Regions from separate parts of the Homo sapiens genome. Here region 1 is linked to region 2. The links come from fine-mapping of genetic effects on gene expression. A gene starts in region 2. The other region holds a variant in brackets. All regions are shown on one strand. Distances are between the middles of the regions.

What was found. PIP is the estimated chance that this variant, and not a neighbour inherited with it, causes the effect. A credible set is the group of variants that fine-mapping cannot tell apart.
Region 1: its variant is the best candidate, but not a certain one, in a credible set for the expression of URM1 in liver (GTEx, PIP 0.59).

What each region holds. Positions count from the first base shown.
Region 1 is chr9:128,398,564-128,408,724 of GRCh38, reverse strand. No RefSeq gene overlaps it. Among named protein-coding and RNA genes, the nearest start is that of MIR219A2HG, 10 kb to the right of the region's middle. RefSeq lists an enhancer at 3,168-3,968. The variant A/G (reference allele first, on the strand shown) is at 6,563.
Region 2 is chr9:128,366,432-128,374,699 of GRCh38, reverse strand. URM1 (ubiquitin related modifier 1) reads right to left here and starts at 3,326. Exons shown (of 5, transcript NM_030914.4): 1 at 3,285-3,326. The coding sequence starts at 3,319. RefSeq lists enhancers at 3,128-3,227, 3,291-4,154, 4,155-5,019.

The DNA.
Region 1 (10,161 bases), 33 kb before region 2:
TCTTGCAGGTAGAAGAGTTTCAATGAGGATGATGACAGTGGTGATGGTGGTGCTGCCAAGCCCCCCTCCTCCAACTCCTTTACCCCTAGGGCCTTCTTTCTTGAGGCCAGAACCCGGACTAGGGAGGGGACAGGGGAACAGGGACAATCCCATGGCTAAGTAAGACAACCCAGAAGGTGACTTGGCTGTGGCTGGGTGGGATCTCAGGGTCTGGGAACGACCCCTCAGGATGCAGTGAGAAGTATTTGCCACTTGGTCCTGTGCACTTCAGAGGTGCCAGGCACTGTGCTCACTAAGCCCTTTCAGACCTTCATACCCTTTTATCATGTAAACTTTTTCAGACTCACAAAGCAGATGTATAATTAGCTCCACTTTACACTTGATAAGCTAAGGCTCAGAGAAGTTCAGTCATTTGTCCAACGCCACACAGCCTGGAGGTTGTGGAGCCAATACTCAAGGCGGAGCCGCTTCCTTCCTGAAATTATACTCCAGTGGGAAGGAGAGAGGAACAACGAGGCAGCTGGACATGGTGAGTTCTGGCTGGGAGGGTCTTCCCTCCCTGCCAGAAGGCTATGAATAAAGAAATGTCTGCTTATCCCCAGGGGAAATTCCATCCTTGGAGCAGGTGCCTTTATTTATTTATTTATTTATTTATTTATTTATTTATTTTTTGAGACAGAATCTCGCTCTGTCACCCAGGCTGGAGTGCAGTGGCGCGAACTTGGCTCACTGCAACCTCCACCTCCCGGGTTCAAGCGATTCTCCTGCCTCAGCCTCCCGAGTAGCTGGGACTACAGGCACCCGCCACTACGCCTGGCTAATTTTTGTATTTTTAGTAGAGATGGAGTTTCACCATATTGGCCAGGCTGGTCTCTCAACTCCTGACCTTGTGATCAGCCCTCCTTGGCCTCCCAAAGTGCTGGGATTACAGGCGTGAACCACTGTGCCCAGCTGCAGTTGCCTTTAAAAACGAGGTTGGACAAGCACTTTGGGAGGCTCCCGCCTGTAATCCCAGCACTTTGGGAGGCTGAGGCAGGTGGATCACTTAAGCCCAGGAGCTCAAGACCAGCCTGGGCAACATGGCAAAACTCCATCTCTACAAAAAATACAAAAATCAGCCAAGCATGGTGGCCATTCACTCCAGCCTGGGCGACAGGGTGAGACTGTGTCTCAAAAAATAAAAATAAAGTTTATTTAAAAAAAAGCTTGATTGATTTTTATCTGTGAACAGAGGTGGGCCTGGGTAGACATCCAGATGCAGGGGATTGAATGCAATGACCTCCAGCGGAGGCCTCCTAGGAATCAGAGGCACTATGGAAGAACGTTTAAGGGATTGGGCTCTGCAGCCAAGCTATGGGCTTGAATCCCAGCTCTTTTTCTCGCAGTGTGTCCACAGATGAGTCACTTCAATGCTCCGTGTCTCAGTTTTCCAATCTGTAAAACTGACTCCACACTGCAGGAATGTGGTGACCACCATTCAGCAAGGTACGTGGACGACCTCAGAACAGAGCCTGACCCAGTGAGGAATGCCTGTTTCTACTCGGCAGGGTCCCCCCAGCCAGGTCCCACCTCAAAGCAGGAACCACTGGGGTGCTGTGGTATGCAGTCAGCTGTTGACCTTGCTTTTTGGGAAGTGGTTGGGCTTTAAAGACAACATGAGGGACTATGGTTAGACACCAAGAACAAAGACGCCATTCTCTGGGGGATGTAAGGCAAAAGCCAACCACGGCTTCCCAGGGATAGTCAGAGGAGATTGTGGCGCTCTGAGGCCCAGGCAGGGGCTGCTCCTGCTACTAGGCTGGGCCCTGGGCATGGTGCCTGGAGAGACAACAGAAAGGAAAGGCCTGGAGGTGCTAGGCAGAGTCGGCTCCCTCCACCCCTCAGCCTCTTAAATTCAGGGGGAAACTGCATGTGGAGAGGGAAAGAGAGAGGTGGTCAAAGATGGCTTCCATAACACAAACAGCCTGCGGTGTGATGAGGGGGCCTGGTGGGTTTGAGTACCAGCAGTTTGCTGTGTCACCCGGGATGAACTGCTAACTCTCTCTGAGCTCATTCCAAAGGTCTTTTAGAATCCAAAGTGTTAAAAGGAAACCATTACAGCAGCCTCTGTGATTTCACAAATCTAATCAGAAAGTTGGCTAGGCTGGGTGCGGTAGCTCAGGCCTGTAATCACAGCATTTAGGGAGGCTGAGGTGGGAGGATTGCTTGAGCCCAGGAGTTCAAGACCAGCCTGGGCAACATAGTGAGACCTTATCTTTTTTTTTTTTTTTTTAATATAAAGATATATTCCATGCAAGAGAGACCTCATCTTTTAAAACAGAAATTTAAAAATCATACAAATAAAAATAAAACACAAAAACCTGGCTGGGAATCCAGGAGTCCTATACCCTAGACTCCAGCCCCTCCTACCTCCTCACATTCCCAGCCCTCTCCTCCAGCTTCTCTAACCATCCCTTCAGCTCCCCTCACCAAACCATCAGTGACACACGAGTCCCAGACAGAGGGTGAGACAGTCACAACAGAAAAGGCCACAGAACCATGAGGACTCACGGAGATTGTGGGGGTCTTGGGGAGCCCCGACATGGACAACCTCTCCCTCCCTCACTGCCTGGCTGTGGGGCCAGAGGAGCACTCACCCGGGCAGAGCCTCTTGGGGGTACTCCTCAGCCCAGGAGGTGGATGGCACTGCTGGGGCGTCTCTGGCATAAGGTGACTCCCACCCAGCTCCTGCTGCTGAGAAGGACTGGTCAGGCGGGGCCCTCAGGTGCCAGACCGCCCTTCCCGGGCACAGATTTTCCTGGCATCTGCTGGGCAGGAAGGGCACTGGCTGGGGGTTGGGCAGAGGAGCAGGGAAAGATTTGAGCAAAGACGTCTCCCAGAGGGCTTCCCCCTAAACCTTCACCCCACTCTCCTTCTGGACACTGTAGGCCAAAGGTCCAGGAAGACAGGGAGCCTCAGGAGTGGGGAGAGGTCTGATCAAGGAGGCTGAGAGGAGCCCAGGCCCCTGCCCCCCGACCGCTCCCATCCACTGCCAGCAGGGCCCACACGGAGGTGTTTGCTTTTCCTGCCTCTACACTGACTCCATTCAGAGCAGCCGATCCCCACCCCCGGCCAACGACCAGAAAGTCAGGGCACCAGGGAGTGAGATCACGGCCCCCACCTCCCCCTCCACAACCCTTCCTGCCCTCTTCACTGCAGGAGATACCTCAGCCACAAGGGCTTCCTAGTTTCATGGACGACTGGGGCGTGGGGGGCTGGCAGGAGGAGAGAAAGAGGGAAACCAAGTCGAGAAGAGGGTGGTGGGAAGTATCTGAGGAGAGGGACGCAAAGGGACACGGACGATAGGGCTCCTGATGGAGGCGGCCCAGGCAGAGATGGGGCAGGGACAGGATGGGGGAGCCACAGAGCAGAGGACTGTCTAGGAGGCAGGCAGGGCCGTCACTAACCAGTCCAGGGCCTCACAGCCTGGCTCTGCACCGGTCACGGCCAGCAGGGCCCGGAGTGGACACTGAGGATGGGAGCTCCTGGCGCCCACCTGGAAACCAGCCTCCTTCTCATCCCCGGAACAAGGGCCCAGGCAGAGCTGTGACCTGGTCTGTGGCCAGGGGAAGGAGGAGGGTGAAAAGTTTCCCCAAGTCAGAAGGCCATGGGGGAGGCATCTCAGGGGGTCCTGCTCTTTGCTGTCTCTGACTGTCACATTGGTACATAAAGGGGGTAGAAAGGTCAGATGCGGCCTTTCAGGCCCGTGGGAAAAACTCAGCCCATTTCCCTAATCCATATTTATTGGTGTGAGACACTGGGGTGGGAGGAAGCCCGCTGCCCCCACCCGCCGCCCCAGCCAGGCCAGGTTAGCACTAAGAACAGGCTCCATGTCACCCAAATCCTACTCTTTGTCTCCAGATTGGCTCCAGAATCCTCCCCCATCCCTCCTCCCCTTGGTCCCCCCCACCCAACCCCCCTCGGGGTTGCCAAGCAACCATGGAAGGGTAGCTGAGATATTTTCTTTATTACAAGCAAAAGCAAGACAGCATCATGGCCCCAGGAGGGGAGCAGGGTGGGGGCTGGGGGAGAGGGTGTCCTGTGCTCTGGGGGGACTCAGCCACCTCCACTTGTTCTGAGCGTGAGCAGTGGGGAGACAGGGCCCCAGAGCCCAAGAGAAGGAGGGAGATGGAAGAGAGTGTTGGTGAAGGGGTGGGTGGAGTGTGCAGACACTGGTCCACTCTACACAATGCTAAAAGATGGGGTGGTGCCATGAGACCCAGGCCTGAGTCTCTCACCTGCCACCCACCAGCTGTGCCATCTGCACCCAAGTCACTTCCCTTCTCTGGGCCTGTTTCCTCCTTGATAAAATGGGAATAATAATATGTATTATCTCATTTAATCCTCACAAAAGACCCAGGAGATGTTTATTTTTCCTATTTTATTGGTTAAGGAAGCTGAGGTTGGGAGGTATGAAGTCATGTGCCAAGCAGGTAAGTGGCAGAGGTGGGATTCCTGAGCCCCATCCCTCTCTTTTTATCTTTTTTTTTTTTTTTTTGAGATGGAGTCTTGCTCTGTCACCCAGGCTGGAGTGCAGTGGCAGAGTGGCGGGATCTTGGCTCATTGCAACCTCCGCCTCCCGGGTTCACGCCATTCTCCTGCCTCAGCCTCCGGAGTAGCTGGGACTACAGGTGCCCACCACCATGCCCAGCTAATTGTTTGTATTTTTAGTAGAGATGGGATTTCACCGTGTTAGCCAGGATGGTGTCGATCTCCTGACCTCATGATCCACCCGCTTCGGCCAGTGCTGGGATTACAGGTGTGAGCCGCTTCGGCCAGTGCTAGGATTACAGGTGTGAGCCACTGTGCCCGGCCTCTTTTTTTTTCATAACAGCATTGTTGAGATGTAATTCACATGCCATGCAATTTGCCTACTTAAAGTGTATCATTCAACAGCTTTTAGTATATTCAAGAATTGTGCAACCATCACAACAAGCCATTTTATATTTTCATTATTTTGAAAAGAAAGCCCATACTCAGGCTGGGCGTGGTGGCTCACACCTGTAATCCCAGCACTTTGGGAGGTCAAGGTGGGCTGATCACCTGAGGTCAAGAGTTCAAGATCAGCCTGGGCAACATGGTGAAACTACATCTCTACTAGAAAAATACAAAAATTAGCAGGGCGTGGTGGTGGGCACTTGTAATCCCAGCTACTCGGGAGGTTGAGGCAAGGAGAATTGCTTGAACCCAGGAGACGGAGGTTGCAGTGAGCTGAGATCGCACCACTGCACTCCAGCCTGCATGACAGAGTGAGACTCCATCTCAAAAAAAGAAAGAAAGAAAGAAAGCCCATACTCATTAGCCATCATTCCCCATTTCTCCCCAACTGCCCTTCTCCCCAGCCCTAGGCAACCACTAATCTGCTTTCTGTCTCAATAGATTTGCCTATTCTGGATATTTCATGTAAATGGAATTATACAGTATGTCTAAGTCCCAATTATTATTATTTTTTAGACATGGTTTCTCTCTGTCACCCAGGCTGGAGTGCAGTGGCACACTCATGGCTCACTGCAGCCTCAACCTCCTAGACTCAAGTGATCCTTCTGCCTCAGCCTCCCAAGCAGCTGGGACTACAGGCACCCATCACCATGCCCAGCTAATTTTTTTTTTTTGCAGAGATGGGTTCCCACTATGTTGTCCAGGATGGTCTTGAACTCTCGTGAGTCCCAACTCCTTAACTTCCAATGGTTCCTACTTCACTGGGTACTGGGGCAATAGAGTAAGAGGAGTGAGGTGGTGAAGTATTGAAGAATGTGGTCTTTGCAGATACGCAGACTTAGGTCTAAAACAAACCTAGGGCCGGGTGTGGTGGCTCATGCCTGTAATCCCAGCACTTTGGGAGGCTGAGGTGGGCAGATCACCTGAGATCAGGAGTTCAAGACCAGTCTGACCAACATGGAGAAACCTCGTCTCTACTAAAAATACAAAATTAGTTGGGCGTGATGGCACATGGCTGTAATCCCAGCTACTTGGGAGGTTGAGGCAGGAGAATAGCTTGAACCTGGGAGGTGGAGGTTGCAGTGAGCCAAGATCATGCCATTGCACTCCAGCCTGGGCAACAAGAGCGAAACTCCATCTCAAAAAAAAAAAAAAAAAAAACCAAAACTCTAGCTCTTGGCAGGGCGTGGTGGCTCACAACTATAATACCAACACTTTGGGAAGCAGAGGTGGGAAGATCACTTGAGCCTAGGAGTTTAGGACCAGTCTAGGCAACATAGCAAGACCTCATCTCTCTTTTTTATTATTTTTTTTGAGACGGAGTCTCGCTCTGTCGCCCAGGCTAGAGTCCAGTGGTGCGATCTCGGCTCACTACAAGCTCCGCCTCCCAGGTTCATGCCATTCTTCTGCCTCAGCCTCCAGAGTAGCTGGGACTACAGGCGCCCTCCACCACGCCTGGCTAATTTTTTTGTATTTTTAGTAGAGACAGGGTTTCATCGTGTTAGCCAGGAAGGATCTCTCTTTCTTTCTTTTTAGACAGAGTCTCACTCTGATGCCCAGGCTGCAATGCAGTGACGAGATCTAC[A/G]CTCATTGCAACCTCCACTTCCTGGGTTCAAGCAATTCTCCCACCTCAGCCTCCAGAGTAGCTGGGATTACGGGTGCCCACCAACACACCCAGTTATTTTTTTTATTTTTTGGTAGAAACGGGGTTTCACCATGTTGGCCACACTGGTCTTGAACTCCTGAGCTCAAGCAATCCACCTGCCTCGGCCTCCCAAAGTGATGGGATTACAGGCACAAGCCACCGTGCCCGGCCTGGGACCCCATCTCTATTAAAAATAATAATAATTAATTGACACTGGGTGCGGTGGCTCATGCCTGTAATCCCAGCACTTTGAAAGGCTGAGGCGGGTGGATCACCTGAGGTCAGGAGTTCAAGACTAGCCTGACCAACACAGTGAAACCCTGTCTCTACTAAAAATACAAAATTAGCTAGGCGTGGTGGCACATGCCTGTAATCCCAGCTACTTGGGAGGATGAGGCACCCAGGAGGCAGAGGTTGCAGTGAGCCGAGATCACACCACTGCACTCTAGCCTGGGCAACAAGAGCGAAATTCTGTCTCAAAAAAAAAAAAAAAAAGATTAATTGAAATCAATAAAACCTATCTCTGTCATTCAGGAGCTCTGTACCTGGGGGAAGTTGCTTGCTCTCTCTTGGCCTCAGGTTCCTAGTGGGTAAAATGCGGAGAGTGATAGAATTTCTCTGAAGGGCTGTAGTGATGCATGTCAAGCGCTTAGCCCAGTGCTCAGTGCTTAATATATGGTAGTTGTTGCTAACTAGATTACAATGGTCCAGATTACAATGGTCCATGTATCTATTTATTCCTTGACCCAGGTATTTAATAAAACAGCACCTTCCGGCCGGGCGTGGTGGCTCACGCCTGTAATCCCAGCACTTTGGGAGGCCGAGGCGGGTGGATCATGAGGTTAGGAGATCGAGATCATCCTGGCTAACACGGTGAAACCCCATCTCTATTAAAAGTACAAAAAGTTAGCCACGTGTGGTGGTGGGCGCCTGTTGTCCCGGCTACTCGGGAGGCTGAGGCAGGAGAATGGCGTGAACCCAGGAGGCGGAGCTTGCAGTGAGCCGAGATCGCGCCACTGCACTCCAGCCTGGGTGACAGAGTGAGACTCCGTCTCAAAAAAAAGAAAAGGAAAAAAGAAAGAAAAACAAAAATTTAGCACCTTCCAGCCGGGCGCGGTGGCTCACGCCTGTAATCCCAGCACTTTGGGAGGCTGAGGTGGGCGGATCACCTGAGGTCAGGAGTTTGAGACCAGCCTGGCCAACATGGTGAAACCCTGTCACTACTAAAAATACAAAAATTAGACGGGTGTGGTGGCAGGCCACTGTAGTCCCAGCTACTCGGGAGGCTGAGGCAGGATAACTGCTTGAACCCGGGAGGCGGAGGCTGCAGTGAGCCGAGATCGCGCCATTGCACTCCAGCCTGGGTGACAAGAGTGAAACTTCATCTAAAACAAAACAAAACAAAACAAAAAAACTTAGCACCTTCCAAGGGGCAGGCGTTGTTCTAGGTGCTGGGGATTTAGTAATGAACAGGACGTGATCCCTCATACAGCTTCTGTTCTAGTAGGTGACAAACAAGACAGCTGGTAAATATGACACTTTCAGGGAGTGATCCAGTCAAGGAAGACATCAACACAGCACGATGGGCTGAAGCGTGCCGGGCAGGTGCATGTTTTAACCTGGAAGGCTTCCCTGCCCTGCCTTCACTCACTTCATAGAGAGGAACATCTTCTGTAAGCCGAAAAATGCTAGGCAGGGTGGAGGGGTTCTTAGGATCCCCTCTGAGTGGGGACAGGTGGCCTGGCTCTGGCATCTTCTGAGACTGGAGTGAGTCAGGTTGTCAGTTCATTTCTAGAGGTAGGACACCTGGCCAGTCACCATGTAAGAGTGCCGGCCAGTCTTAGAGAATTCTCTTTGTATAAATGGTTCTGGCTACTGAAGCCCAGAGTGGGCAAGGGCCTGGCCTATGGAGGCACACTGAATAGCAATAGGGTTCTTTCCTCTATCCCAGGCTGCCAGGCCAAATCACAGTGAAACCCGGATTGACAGAAACACTTGGGGACAGGAATCTAGGGATGGAAAGATCTGGCACAGAGGTGGAGCCTGTCGCCACAGCTGTTCCCTGGGCATCTGTCTGCATGCTCTGGGTCCTGGACTTGCCTTAAAGTGCAGAACTGAGGCTGCTGCATGACAGAAGCCCCTCCCAGCCCCCTTCAATGAGCCTCACCCACAGCAATATCTCAAGTGCCACACCTAGAACCTCAGCTGATTGGCTGCAAACATCCGTGCACCCACTGTCAATTCCTTATTAATTTCATCTTTCACTCCATTGTCCCAAAGTCTGCTTTTTCATGCATCCGTCTCCATCTACCATTCATTTAATTATTACTTCAATAAAGCATTCATCAATTCATTCATTCATTCATCATTCATTCAACAGATGTTTACTGAGCATGTCCTTTGTGCTGAGCACAATGTTTGGTCAAATCCTTGGTAAAGGCCTGGTGCGGTGGCTCACGCCTGTAATCTCAGTACTTTGGGAGGCCGAGAAGGATCACCTGAGGTCAGGAGTTCGAGACCAGCCTGGCCAGCATGGCAAAACCCTGACTCTACTAAAAATACAAAAATTAGCCAGGCGTGGTGGTGGGCACCTGTAGTCCCAGCTAAGTGGGAGGCTGAGGCAGGGAGAATTGCTTGAACCTGGGAGGTGGAGGTTGCACTGAGCCGAGATTGCGCCACTGCACTTCAGCCTGGGTGACAGAGCAGGACTCCATAACCAAAAAAAAAAAAAAAAAAAAAAAAATCCTTGGTAAAATGCCAGGCCAGGCCAGGCCAGGTGCGATGGCTCATGCCTGTAATCCCAGCACTTTGGGAGGCTGAGGTGGGCGGATCACTTGAGGTCAGGAGTTTGAGGCCAACACAGTGAAACCCCATCTCTACTAAAAATACAAAAATTAGCTGGGCATGGTGGCACACACCTATAGTCCCAGCTACTTGAGAGGCTGAGGCATGAGAATTGCTTGAATCTGGGAGGCAGGGGTTGCAGTGAATGGAGATTGTGCCACTGCACTCCAGACTGCGTGACAGAGTGAGACTCCACTTCAAAAAAAAAAAAAAAAAGCCGGGTGCGGTGGCTCACGCCTGTAATCCCAGCACTTTGGGAGGCTGAGGCGGGTGGATCATGAGGTCAAGAGATTGAGACCATCCTGGTCTCAACCCACCTCTACTAAAAATACAAAATTTAGCTGAGTGTGGTGGCACGTGCCTGTAGTCCCAGCTACTTGGGAGGCTGATGCAGGAGAATTGCTTGAACCCGGGAAGTGGAGGTTGCAGTGAGCCGATATCACGCCACTGCACTCCAGCCTGGATGACAGACCGAGACTCCGTCTCAAAAAAAAAAAAAAAAAAAGCCAGTCCTGGTGGGAAGGAAGGGCTTGCTTAACTGGCAGTGTGGACAACTCTGCCGTCTTCTTTTTTAATTTTTTTTTTTTTGAGACGGAGTCTTGCTCTGTTGCCCAGGCTGGAGTGCAGTGGCGTGACCTCGGCTCACTGCAAGCTCCGTCTCCCGGGTTCACGCCATTCTCCTGTCTCACCCTCCC
Region 2 (8,268 bases):
GGGAACAGAGATGTCCTGAGACAGCCCGCTGGGAGGCAAAGGCAAGGCAAGCATTGTCATGGGGAAAACATGGGGCGACTGTCATCCAAACAAGGTCACGCTTTGTTGATGCAGAAATGTGGAGGGGGAGAGGAGGCCCATCTGTGGCCGCGCACAGGGCCATTTCAGCTGCAAGCCTGCACAGAGCCTCCATTTATTCCCTTCCAAGAGCCTCGTTTTCTCCTGGGTGGGGGGTTGGCACATGCAGCAGCTGGGGTGGGGGAGGGTGACAGGCAAGGGGCTCAGGAGTTGGGGGTCAGAGAAGAGGGATGGGAACTGAAGGCACTGGGACTTAGGCAAACAACCAAGACTGGCCAAACCTGGTGGTGCCAGGCTCAGAGGCCGAGGCTGTTTTTCCCTTTACAAGCGGATGAAGGGAGAACCAGTCTCGCTCAGAGAGTGACCTGTCACTGCTGAATTCACTGGCCCTCAAGGGAGGGGTTGGCATTTCTGCTGTCAGCACATCTGGAGTGGGGGAAGGTGCATGCCCAGCCTCAAGAGTGATTCAGGGAGGCAGACAAGGGGCCTGTTCTAGCCCAGGAGAGACCAAGGCCAGACTCTCTTATGTCTTATAAGATCTGCTATTCAAACTCAACTGACATATCTCCATCTTCCTTCAACCCCCCCAATTCTTGGTGGATGTGTTTGTAGATACCAGTGACAGGTATAGATATTCTCAAAACCACCTTCACCTTTTCTGATGTATCTTCATCTTTTAATCTTCTGTATATACACATACATATACACGTATATATATATTTTGTTTATTTACTTCCTCTCCACCTGCTGGGCTGCAAGCTCTGCCTAAAACAGGGCCTGGCACATGGTAGACACTCAACAAATATCTGCTAAAGGAAAGGAAATGCCCATTTCTCCCAGTTCTTCTCTGACCTCAATGACATTCCCTCCTTTTGCCAATACCTCCCCAACTTGGGAAGGAGGAAGAGGGGTGGGACGGAGAGAACTCCATATCTGGGCCTTTACAACATGGACCACAGGGACACAAAACACAACTATATTACATACTTTGAATCCTGCGTGACCTGAGAAAACGCTCTGCTGAGAACAATTCAGGGGGAAGACAAAGGGTGGCAGACGTGGTCACTGACAAGAAGGAAGGTGTTAGAGGCCTTCCAGAGGGTCTCTGGAGGAGCTGGTGGGGCCAAGAGGACTACATCTGCTCAGGAGGGAGACCCTTCCAGAACTGGAGTGGGAGTGGGGCCACTAAGGGACAAAAGAGAGAAAATGAAGGGCGTGTTAGCCTTTGCAAATTTGCTCCAGTTCTGGATAAGGGTGAATCATGTCTGCTAAGATACATAGGAAATGAAAGAAAGGTCAGGGCAAAAACGTGCATCAACACAAGGACAAAGAGAGAAGGAACCTGGGTTGAGCATCATGTTGGGCATTCCTGAGAATGCTGCAATTTTCATGGAACGCTGTGCTGTGACAGGAGGTGATAGAAGGTGGGTGGGTGGGTGGGTGGGTGGAGGAATGTTGTCCTGCCTTGCCAGGGGTCATTATTGCTCTTGGAGGTAAGGGAGACTGAAGTTAGAGATGATTGGGTCAGAAAAAGGGCAATTGTGCTGGTTTGTAAGCTCTGGAGAGCAATGGCCCCATCTTCCTCACATGACTTCCCCACTGAGCTAGCACAGTACCTAGCAGAGACATTGTTGATAAACAAAGACCATGTCTGACTCATGAGGATGAAAGGCAAGTTGTCTGCAGATAAATCTTCTTTTTTTTTTTTTTGGTAGAGATGAAGTCTCCCCATGTTGCCAAGGCTGGTCTCGAATTCTTGGGCTCAAGCAGTCCTCCTGCCCAAGCCTCCCAAAGTACTAGGATTACAGGCATGAGCCTCCATGCCTGGCCCAGATAAATCTTAACACAGCAGTCTGTGGCTTCTCTCTTTCCAGCTCTGCTGAGGCCTGTCAAGGAAGCAGGGATCCTCCTAGAATCCCAGGCTTTGGGGAGTGTAGCTGGGCCAAGGGTCAGTGAGGCAAAACAGTGAGGAGTCCAGACCAATACAGTTCTAATTGGATCCAAGCAGCCAGACAATATCAATTAAAATGCACTTAGTCATGAGACTTACCCCCCTTCTAAGGGGCAGAAATGCTGAACGCTGTAGGGCACGGACAGACTTCTATTTATCTTTGTATCCTCAGTGTCTGGCTTGCTGCCCGGCACATGGTAGGCACTCAATAAATGGCTGGTGAATGAACTACCCAATTAAGGGAAAACATGAAAGAAATGGGAGGCATCCAATGAGAAGAAAGGCACTGGGCAGAGGTTTTAGATTCCCATCCCAGACTTTTCCTGTCACATAGACCTTGGCTTATCTACACACACACAGGCACACACACACACCTACCTATTCCACACACACACACACACATCCCTACCTATTTCCTCTTTTCCACGTGATACTGTAAAGTACACCACCCATCTTTCAAGGCCTGTTTCTTTGCCTTCTCTCTAAGCTCTGCAGTTTCCCTCAGCTTTGAAACCATATGACAAACCTGTTTGTAGGAAGCACAAATAGTGCCTTGGGTAGACTTCCTCCCTGCTCTGTGTTTCTTCAGTAACTGGTGTGTGTCCCAATCTCTGCATTTTTCATCTTGTGTATACTATACTGTCCCTGTTAGTTCCCTTCAGTGTGATTTCTTATTTGTCCCCGTGTCTCCACCTGACTCCAGTTCTGCAGAAGGCAATCAGCAAGTTTACTGACTGTCCTGAAGGAGGCTCAGGTCTGTTTACCATCCCCAAGTCTTAGGAAAGAAAAAGAAAAAAGTCCCGCCCTGGCCACTACATCCCACGAGAAACAAGACCTTAATAACAGTGTAAAAAGAAACTGCTGCCCAAAGAATGAAATCAGCGGGTGGAGGGTGGTCCTTCTAGGTTCTAGGAGCTCAGATGCCAAACAGATGGGATTGGTCCGAGATAGGAATGGAAAAGAAGAGAGAGAGGCTGCCTGCTAACAGTCACGACCTCCGACTCCGGCGGAGCACAGGGCACCGAGTGGTACACAGAGAGCATTTCCCTCCCAATGTGCGCCTCTATTTCCGGACAGACGGCCTCACTGCCAAGAGAGACTGGCCTCTCAGACTCTCCTAGGCGGGTAGCGTAGCTCACAGCGGGCACTGGGACACCCAGTGATTCGGCCGTGTCAGGCCCCACGGCAGAAGGAAAGGAATTCTGGGCCCGACGACTTCAATCCATCCCCACGGCGCCCCAGCTCTGTGACTCACCCGAACTCCACCTCCACTGACAAGGGCGCAGCCATGTTGAGGAAGCCGAGCTCGCAGGAAACTCCCCTCAACTTCCGGCGCGCCCGCAAATTTCCGGGCGTCTCCGGGTGCCGCGGACGGAAGAGGCGGTGCCCAGGGATCCAGCTTCGTCAGCTGTTGGAGGAAGTCATCGAGGGGAGGGGAGGGGAGGGGAGGGCAGCGGAGGGAAAGGGGTGGCAGAGGGACTATCACCGGCGCTGTTGGGGCTGTGAATCGGTCTCCTTCCGTCTTTCACCGACTGGGCTCAGAGACCCAGGGTGGGAAGCGCCTTGTACGGGACCACAAGCAGGCGGAGGAGAGCCCCCAGGTTTTTTGCGACGTGACCGTGAGCCACGTAGCTGCTTATCTTGCATGAGTTAGAATCTCTTCAGTCTACACACCGCTTGGGCCAGCCCATCTACTCGTCTGGTTGGAATTATAAATGACTCCCAGATCTTTATTTCCGACCCAGAATCTCTCCTGAGCGGGCGACTCGCTATCCAGCCGCCCCCTTTGCTGTCGATTTGGAAGTCACTCGTTCAACAGCTGTTCATTGCGCCTCCCTGTGCCAGGCATTTTGATCGGTGCTAGTGGTAAAGGGGATGGGCAAGGTTCCTGCCTTTAGGGCACTCACAGTCTAGCGGGGAGACTAACTGTAATCAAATAAGCATACTAAGACATGTACAACCTCAAACTTAAATAAAGGAACTGAAGTTATAGGAACTTCAAAAAGAAAACTGAGTAGACTGGACTTGCTGGGCTCTAAAACCTGAGTAAACTAGGTGGCTGTGAGGGGAGAGAAACCTCTAGGAGCATTCCAGTGAGGAGGACAAAAGGCCCAGAGGCTCTGGGTGAGAACATGCTGGAACATGGAGAGGAAGGTGGAAGTTAGGGAGCCTGACTTTCATCCATCTAGAGAGGGAGCTGCAAAGGTGCTCAGGGGCCAACCCCTGCCTTGTAAGCAGGTAAACATTTCAGTCTCTAGGAGCAGTGGGAGACTACTGAAGGGTTTTGGGAGACAGTGACATTTTAGAATTGTGTTTTAAAATATAATTTCTGGCTGCAATATGGAGAATGATTTGAGGGGAATAAGGAAAGAGACACGGAGACCACTGGAGCCTGTTGCAAAAGCTCAGGGCAGGCCGGGCGCGGCGGCTCAGGGCAGGCCGGGCGCGGCGGCTCACGCCTGTCATCCCAGCAATTTGGGAGGCCGAGGCAGGCGGATCACGAGGTCAAGAGATCAAGACCATCCTGGCCAACATGGCAAAACCCTGTCTTTACTAAAAAAATACAAAAATTAGCTGGATGTGGTGGCGTGCGCCTGTAGTCCCAGCTACTCGGGAGGCTGAGGCAGAAGAATCGCTGGAACCCGGGAGGTGGAGGTTGCAGTGAGCTGACATCGAGCCACTGCACTCCAGCCTGGTGACAGAGCAAGACTCTGTCTCAAAAAAAAAAAAAAGCCCAGGGCAGAAATGGAATGAAGTTGGCCAGGCACAGTGGCTTATGCCTGTAATCCTAGCACTTCGAGAGGCCACGATGGGCGGATCACGAGGTCAGGAGTTCAAGACCAGTCTAGCCAACATGGTGAAACCCTGTCTCTACTAAAAATACAAAAATTAGCCAGGCATGGTGGCAGTCTCCTGTAATCCCAACTACTCTGGAGGCAGAGGCAGGAGAATCCCTTGAACCCAGGAAGCAGCAGAGGTTGCAGTGAGCCGAGATCGTGCCACTGGACTCCAGCCTGGGCGACAGAGTGAGACGCTAAAAAAAAGAAATGGAATGAAGTAGACGGCCTATGGGTATCTAAACACCAACACTTCCAAAACTGAACTCAGCATTGGTAGAGGATGATGGTGTAGCCTAGTGGTTAAGGGCAGAATGATGTAATAGTTAAGATCTAGGAGTTCAGGTGGAATGGGTGTGGCGACTCACACCTGTAATCCCAATGCTTTGGGAGGCCAAGGCAAGAGGACTGCTTCTGGCTGGGAGTTTGAGACCAGCCTGGGCAACACAGCAAGTCCCTATGTCTGTAAATGTTTCTTCAAAAATCAGCCAGGCATGGTGGAGTGTGCCTGTCCCAGCTACTCAGGAGGCTGTGAGGGGAGGATCACCTGAGCCTGGAGGTCAAGGCTGCAGTGAGCCGTGATCATGCTATTGCATTCAGCCTGCATGACAGAGTGAGACTCCGGAGTGCAATGGCATGATCACAGCTCACTGTAATCTTGAGCTGCTGGACTCAAGGGAACCTCCTGCCTCAGCCTCTAGAGTAGCTGAGACCACAGGCACTGATAAAGTCCTTCCTTCCTTCTAGTCCACCATGCCCGGCTAATTTTTAAAATTTTTTTGTAGAGACATGTTTTCACCATGTTGCCCAGGCTACTCTCAAACTCCTGGGCTCAAGCAGTCTGCCTGTCTTGGCCTCCCAAAGTGCTGGGATTACAGGTGTGAGGCACCACACTGGGCCAAAAAAAAATTGTTTTGTTTTTGAGACAGATTCTTGCTCTGTCACCCAGGCTGGAGTGCAGTGGCATGACCTCGGCTCACTGCAATCTCTGCCTGCCAGGTTCAAGAGAGTCTTCTGCCTCAGCTTCCCGAGTATCTGGGACTACAGGCTTGCGCCATCATCCTGGCTAATTTTTGTACTTTTAGTAGAGATGGGGTTTCACCATATTGGCCAGGCTGGTCTCGAACTCCTGACCTGGTGATCTGCCCGCCTTGGCCTCCCAAAGTGCTGAGATTACAGGTGTGAGCCACTGCACCTGGCTTGGCCAAAGAATTTTTAATTTAAAAAAAATTTTTTTTGTAAAGATCTAGGAGTACAACTACCAGCTTTATATGCAGGCCCTGGCCAGGCACAGTGGCTCACGCCTGTAATCCCAGCATTTTGGGAGGCCAAGGTGGATGGATTGCTTGAGGCCAGGAGTTCAGAACCAGCCTGGGCAACATGATGAAACCCCATCTCTACCAAAAGCCAGGCATGGTGGCACACACCTGTAGTCCCAGCTACTCAGGAGGCTGAGGCACAAGCTGGGAGGCGGAGGTTACACTACTGCACTCCAGCCCTGGGTGACAGTGAGACTGTCTGAAATAAAAATTAAAATTAAAAATTAATATATCTAGGTCCTACTACTTTCTAGCTGTGTCTTTGGGCAAGTCCCTTAACAGCTTTGCGCCTCAGTTTCCTCATCTGTAAAATGGGGATAATAACATCCCAACCCCATAAGGTTGTAGTGAGGAGTGAGTAAGTTCTTGGCACAGTGACTCTTTCCTAAAACAGGTTCTCTCAGCCGGGCGCAGTGGCTCACACCTGTAATCCCAGCACTTTGGGAGGCTGAGGCAGGTGGATCACTTGAGATCAGGAGTTCGAGACCAGCCTGGCCAACATGGTGAAACCCATCTCTACTAAAAATAGAAAAATTAGCTGGGCATGGTGGTGCACACCTGTAATCCCAGCTACTTGGGAGGCTGAAGCAGGAGAACTGCTTGAACCCGGGAGGCTGGAGTGCAGTGGCGCAACAAGAGAGCTAGACTCCGTCTCAAAACAAACAAAACAAAACAGGTTCTGTGTTCCCCATCTCAGGAATACCACTACCACCCACCAAAACACCCAAGTAAACACCCAAATTACCCTAATTTTCCCTCTCTCATATCCAAACAGTCACCAAATTTGGATGAGTCTCCCTTCTTTTTTTTTTTTTTTGAGACGGAGTCTCACTCTGTCGCCCAGGCTGGAGGGCAGTGGTGCGATATCAGCTCACTGCAAGCTGTCTCCCGGGTTCACGCCATTCTCCTGCCTCAGCCTCCCAAGTAGCTGGGATTACAGGCGCCCGCCACCAGGCCTGGCTAATTTTTTGTGTTTTTAGTAGAGATGGGGTTTCACCATGTTAGCCAGGATGGTCTCAATCTCCTGACCTCGTGATCTGCCTGCCTCAGCCTCCCAAAGTGCTGGGATTACAGGCGTGAGCCACTGCGCCCAGCCGAGTCTCCCTTCTAATCTGGCATGCCCCCCCAGTCCTCCAGCTCATCACCTCACCTGCACCTGCTTCCTCTCTGGCCTGCCTGCCTCCCACCTCCTCTGGCCTTGGCTTCATTGTACAGATCAACTCCACGGACAGCTTTGAGCCCCTTCAATGTGCCAGGCCCTGTTCCTATAAAACAAGGACAAATGAGACACTGCCCTGGTCCTTGGAAAGTGGAGGACTCACGTGGTACACAGAAAGGCCTCATCCTCACCGTGCCATGTGACCCACCCCTCTGTGGAACTCAGTTTCCCTATTCTGTGAAGAGGTTTGGGACCAAATGATCTTCTAAGGTCTTCTATGCAAACATATTCTAAGATTCTTCTACTGTACTCTAAGCTCCTTCTGGGCAGAAACTTTTCCTGATTCATCTTTGATTATAGCAGGTAGTGCGGAACTTTGTACTCTATAGGGGTTTGCCAAGAGCTTGCTGAATGAGTAAATGAATGAATGATATCAGTCCCCTGCTCAAAGTCACTTAATGGCTTCCCTTTGCCAACAAGCTAAGGGCCTACCTAGAAGGCATACAGAGCCCTTTACAGCCTCTGATTCCAACCCACCTCAGTGTCCCCTGACCTGGAAACTGCCTCCCAGAGCTGGAATGGAGCACTTGGGAGCATTTGAAGAGCTTCATCCACCTGACAAACATTCACTGAGAACCTATTACACACCAGGGCCAGTGTTGCTGCTGGGAACACAATGATGAACAAAACCTGTCAGTTGGCCGGGTGCGGTGGCACACGCCTGTAATCCCAGCACTTTGGGAGGCTGAGGCGGGCGGATCACGAGGTCAGGAGATCGAGACCATCCTGGCTAACACGGTGAAACCCCGTCTCTACTAAAAATACAAAAAAAAATTAGCCGGGTGTGATGGCGGGCACCTGTAGTCCCAGCTACTCGGGAGGCTGAGGCAGGAGAATGGCGTGAATCCAGGAGGCGGAGCTTGC